Regions from separate parts of the Homo sapiens genome. Here region 1 is linked to region 2. Evidence: fine-mapped expression QTL. Tissue or cell type: whole blood. Region 2 holds a variant in brackets; the other region holds the start of a gene. All regions are shown on one strand. Distances are from middle to middle.

What was found. PIP is the estimated chance that this variant, and not a neighbour inherited with it, causes the effect.
Region 1: IVNS1ABP starts here. The variant in region 2 is fine-mapped to the expression of IVNS1ABP in whole blood (TOPMed, PIP above 0.99).

Annotation. Positions count from the first base shown.
Region 1 is chr1:185,315,890-185,318,646 of GRCh38, reverse strand. It overlaps IVNS1ABP (influenza virus NS1A binding protein), which reads left to right and starts at 1,404. Exons shown (of 15, transcript NM_006469.5): 1 at 1,404-1,694. CBSLR (CBS mRNA stabilizing lncRNA) reads right to left here and starts at 1,195. Exons shown (of 4, transcript XR_007066771.1): 1 at 370-1,195. RefSeq lists enhancers at 386-465, 716-815, 1,465-2,078 and silencers at 1,146-1,455, 1,916-1,975.
Region 2 is chr1:185,419,358-185,422,114 of GRCh38, reverse strand. No RefSeq gene overlaps it. Among named protein-coding and RNA genes, the nearest start is that of CBSLR, 100 kb to the right of the region's middle. The variant T/C (reference allele first, on the strand shown) is at 1,184.

The sequences.
Region 1 (2,757 bases), 100 kb after region 2:
CGGGGGGACGGGGTGCGGGCGGGGCGAGGGAGACATACAAGAAATCTGTGAGAAAAAAAGGGGCGGGGGAATAAGTCTCCTTGCCTCAAGATTTTAGAAAAAAAGTTGTAAACCTATTGCAGATGAAGGCTCCCACAATTTATTTTTCCTGCTTCTATAAGCATAAATAGTTAATGATAAAAATGGTAAGAGGCATTGACAAAGAGCTCCTAGAATGTCTACAAATTAAGGTGAGTGATCAAACACAAGGTTAGGCCTAGACAGCTTAAGTGTCCTCCACAAATCAGGATAAGCGTTAACAGGACATTAACCTGGAAGCCTTTACCAAACTCTAATTTGGATATAATTTTACCTCACTAAATCCCTCACCTTCAATCAAAACTCCTTTCCCACGTGCCCTTCAGAGTCCACGAAGTTGCTGCCAGATCCCAGCTTAAATCACGTTTCGCTTTCACAGATCTCCCTCCCGGGCAAGGTGGTGGGGTGGATAATGAAGTTTGGCACCTGGTATAAAGGGCCCCAGTAGGTTAGGATAGGAACTACCACTTCTCAGGTGTGTTTTCTTTTTCCGGAAGAGGGCAAGACCAGTAGAGAACTGACTCAGCGTCTCCGACACGAGGAGAGCTGCACGCAGACAAAACAGACCCGGGGGGTGAAAAGTGGAAGTAAACTGGTGTTTGTGGCACCACTGATTTACACCTTCTCTGACTTCTCCAATATTTTTTTCCCCAAGTGACTCAATCTTCTCACCCAAACCAGGCCAAATGAGGGGTTAGTTGTTCGACTTCTTCTCAGAGTGCCTCTCTTCTTCCTCACACTCTCCACGCCTCCTCTCCGCACCCGCCACTTCCCCCCCGACCCTTAAGTTAAGGGCTCATGCCCAACTAGATCCTAATGTCCACGACGAGCAGCTCCAGTCTAGGGGGGGTTGCCTAGAAGTAGGTCTGACGCCGAGCAATCTAATCTCCCACGTCTGATCTCTCAGGCTATTGTGCCTCGAGGGGAAGTCAGAACAGGTGAGGGCGGCTTGAGGGAACCAGTTCCGGGACAGGCAACGCACAGGGCGGCGAAAGTGAGGGTGCGGGGCAAGGAACGGAGGGAGGGACAAAGGCGCGATAAGAGGAACGAGGGCGCCCCCCGAGCGCCGCCTATCTCCTCAGGATCACCTTGCGCTGACCTAGTTACACCGAGAAGGAAGGAACCCCAGTAGACCAGGGAGGAAGGCGGGGCGGGATGTGGGCGGGGCCGCGGGTGGGGCGGGGCTTAGAGTGGGATCTTTATGGAGCTCGCCTGTGATTTGCAGATGGATTCGAGACGGAAGCGGGCTGGGAGGCGTCGGCGGCGGCAGCGCACGTGGTGACGTGCGAGGGGGTGCGGCGCGAGCGGTCGGCGGCGGCGGAGGCAGTGTCTCCCGGTCGCGCGTGGAGGTCGGTCGCTCAGAGCTGCTGGGCGCAGTTTCTCCGCCTGCTGCTTCGGCGCGGCTGTATCGGCGAGCGAGCGAGTTCCCGCGAGTTCTCGGTGGCGCTCCCCCTTCCTTTCAGTCTCCACGGACTGGCCCCTCGTCCTTCTACTTGACCGCTCCCGTCTTCCGCCGCCTTCTGGCGCTTTCCGTTGGGCCGATTCCCGCCCGCTTCCTCCTGCTTCCCATCGAAGCTCTAGAAATGAATGTTTCCATCTCTTCAGAGATGAACCAGGTAATACGCGCTGGTTCTACGAACGACAGATGAGGGAGACGGCGCGGCTAGAATCCGAGAAGAAGGGATGGCGCCGGCGGATGGGAAGAGGGTGGGAGGCGCGGAAGCGGTGTCCTCATCAGGGGAGGCAGCCCCAAGCGGCCGCCGCCGCCCTCTGGGACGTGAAGCCCGCGCCGCGCTGGGCCCGCGCTCCAGCGCTGCCATGGTTGCCAAGTTGCGTTGGCGGCCGAGAGCGGGCGCCGGTCGCCTCGGAGAGCGCGGAGGCTGGAGCCCCTTTGCTACACTGGCGCGGGTGAGGCAGGCTGGGAGGAACAAGAGTTTTTTGTTCGAAGGGTTTTGGGGGGCCTGGGTTAGGGCGCCGCGGGCGGGGATGACCCGCCGGAAGGAGGGCGCGGGACTCCCCGTTCTTGCTGTCAGGAACGGACGCCTCGCCTCGGGTTTGCCTGGGGTTTGGGATTCTCTTCTGGAAGAGCTCTCGAGACTCGGCTCGTGTGGGCGGGCAGCCAGCCCCGGGCCTGGAGTAGGGTGGCACGGAGTCCCCGATCGCCGTGGGCCGCGGGGTCCTTTGTTCCCGCTCCACGTTGCCCGCTTTTCTTGCCAAGCGCGGGGAGAAGGGGGCGGGAGGAGGGAGGGAGCGGCTGCCCTGACGTGTCGGTACTGAGTGACTGCGGGGCTGGCCAATCCGGGGCGGGGGTGTGCGGGTGCTGGGGGCCTCGCCTCGCAGCCTGCGGAGTGGGCGCCGGCCTGGCTGCGCGAGGAGGAAGGCCTGGGACGCTCTTTCTTTTTTATGAAAGAAATCAGTGGCAAGATTTGCTCTTTTTCCGTCCCTCCACGCTTTTGGTTAAGTGTCTCTGATTATAAGCTCTTGATGATAGGAAGGTATCAGGCTGAGGGTTGAACCTAGGGTAACTTGAACCACTACTTGAGAACTACATTTACTTTTTCCCCCAATAGGTAGTGGACATATCTATTGGTTTGAGACAGCTGACATTTCAAGGAGAAATCAGATGTCCAAAAGGGCGCATTTTTGTGATGGAGCGTGCAGTGATGGAGCGTTAGAACA
Region 2 (2,757 bases):
TTTATTCACATTCTTAATTAGCCTTCACAGATATACATTCAGTTTCTTTTAGGAAAGTTTTGAGGTTATTTTAAAAGAACTGCAACATCATAAAGAATGCCATATGATTTAGTCAAGGTATTTCTTTTCCCCCACGTTGTCAGTGGCTATTTCTCTCTCATCCATGAGCCCACACACTGAGAAAAATATGCATTTCTCACACCCTGGTGTGTGACCACTCCCTACACATTGGGGCCATACGTTGGCAGATGGTTATTCCATCACCCCACCTAGAAAGAAAACAAATGACTACCATTCAAAGAAAATGAAGGGTTTTAAGTGAAATGGTATAAAAATAATTACCTAGATCATTTCTTTCCTATAATTTGTAACATTCTATTTGACCCAGAACAGAGTGTGATGCATATTTCTTCCTTTTGAGGAAGCTATCTCTGTTGCCACTCATTCGTATACAATCATGCTGATTCTTCTCCATCTCAGCATCCTCTGTTTCATTCCTGTGCAGAACTCTTGTTGATTATAGACTGACCTATTGGAAACATTGGGAGGGTTCCCTTCCTCACCATATGTGTCCCAGTGGTCTGAAATTATATCCTTAGTTATAATTTGTTTTAGGATCTTAAAGGCTTTTTTTGTTTTCAGTCTCCAACAATCTCATGAAAAGTCAAGAGTAAATCCAAGAAGCTGCTAGCACCCTGAGAGTGTGGAGATAGCCTGCCATGCTAGGGGAAGGAATCCAGCGGAAGGAAGGCAGAGGAGAGAGGGCAGTGACAGAAATCTTACTGGAGGACAAATTTAATCTGACTTCAATACAAAAGCATTTCTACAGGCTACTCAGCACTTTATTTACTGCTGTTGAACTCTCCTTTACATTCACATTTAAGCCAAAACAATGACAAACAAAAATACCAAAGTTATAAACACACTGGAGTCAGTAGTAAGAAAAAAAGACGGATATTTTCCTTCTAGAGGCCCAAAAAAGAGATAAGGTAAAAGAAAAAAGGTTGGGGAGCTTAAGAACTTTAGTAGCGGCAGGGACAGAAGTGTGTTGTTTTACTGAACTATGTATGGCTGGCCAGTGTGCTTTCCTTTGTTTGTTCTCCACACTTCCCTCCCCAATTGCACCACATCCCTTACACTAAAAACCCCAATAGCACCTTCCCCAATTGCACCACATCCCTTA[T/C]ACTAAAAACCCCAATAGCACCTTCCCCAATTGCACCACATCCCTTACACTAAAAACCCCAATAGCACCTTCCCCAATTGCACCACATCCCTTACACAAAAAGCAAAAACTTCTGATCAAAATGTTGTAGAGCCTGAAAGGTCAAAAGAAGGATCTCAAAGACTCCACCACCAAACAATGAAGCAATCACTGTAGCCTTGTGCCCCCAGCCCAGAGCCTCACATTCAGAGAAGTAAGTATTAATACCTTCAAGGAAGAACCAAAACACCCTTCTTTCTGTAAGCCCCATGAGAAGCTCATCCAGGCTGGTCCTGGGCAAAGCTGGAAGGGAGAGAACCTAAAGATCTGGCCCATCTGTCCTTCACTGCCGGCTTCCCTGCAGTCCTTTTCCAGAAACCACACCCCACATTCTCAGCCTATCAACAGCGTCCTGGTGACCAGGTACATTCTCATTCTATCATGAGATTGCTGAAAACTAAAGAAGGCATCAAGACCCCCACATGAATTTCTACTGATACAATTTCAGACCTGTGCAGGAAAATATTTAAGACAGAAAACGCTTTCTCGAGAGGGTGCCTTCAAAGTTCCCGGAGCTCTTGTCCCTCAGCTGACTCTCACAAACCTGAAACCAAGTGACCCGGCAGCTGCGGGCTCCTCCATTGACTCAGGCTTCATCAGAGAGCACCATAAGTGCCGTATCTCCTGCTTCAGACCACCTGAGGACCATTCTACCTGTATTATTCATCTGCTAGGGCTGCCATAACAGAATATCACAATCCTAGCACATAAAATATGGAAGAGGTCCTCCACAATGGAGAAAACTATTGGGGATATGCCTTCTGGAGTTTGATCAAGGAAGATGGACACAAACAGAAAAGAAAAACAGTCCAGAGGAAGCTGAAGGGTCTCCTACATTGCACCAGATGCTGCAGATGGGGAGGACCATTCCACTGGATGCATTCGGGACTGTAAACAGCAGACTGTGAGTGCGGCAGGCAGGGATCACCCAGGCTTGACAACTCAACAGAGTGAGTAATCTGCTGTTCTCCCAGACCCAGCAAGAGCATCCGGCATTACTTTAGGGCTGTTTCTCATTTAAAGCAGCCAAGCCACTCTTTTTTATTTTTGTTTACTTTCAGTAGTAATAACAATAATAGTAGTAACAAAAATTGTACCACCTATTGAACACTTGCTGTATAGCAAGCATTGGTTTAATTGCTGTGTATACTTTGTCCCATTTAATTCTCACATTATCTCTATTTTATATAGGAAGAAATTGAAGCAGAGAGAAGTTAGATTAGTTATCCAAGGTCACACAGCTAGTAAGAATAAGAGCCAGTATTTAAACCAGCAACTTTGACTACAGAGTGCTTAGCTACTTCTCTTCATCATTCTACCCTCAGGAGGCAATATGGTTTGACTAGAGCAATGTAGTGAGAAAAACATAAGCTTTAGCCTCACAGACTATTGTTCAAATCCTAGCCCTATGACCAAGGGCAAGTTCACCTGTCTACACTTGGTTGCCTCCTATTTGAAGTGAGGATAATTTATGAAAAGTGCAATCAAAGTAACTC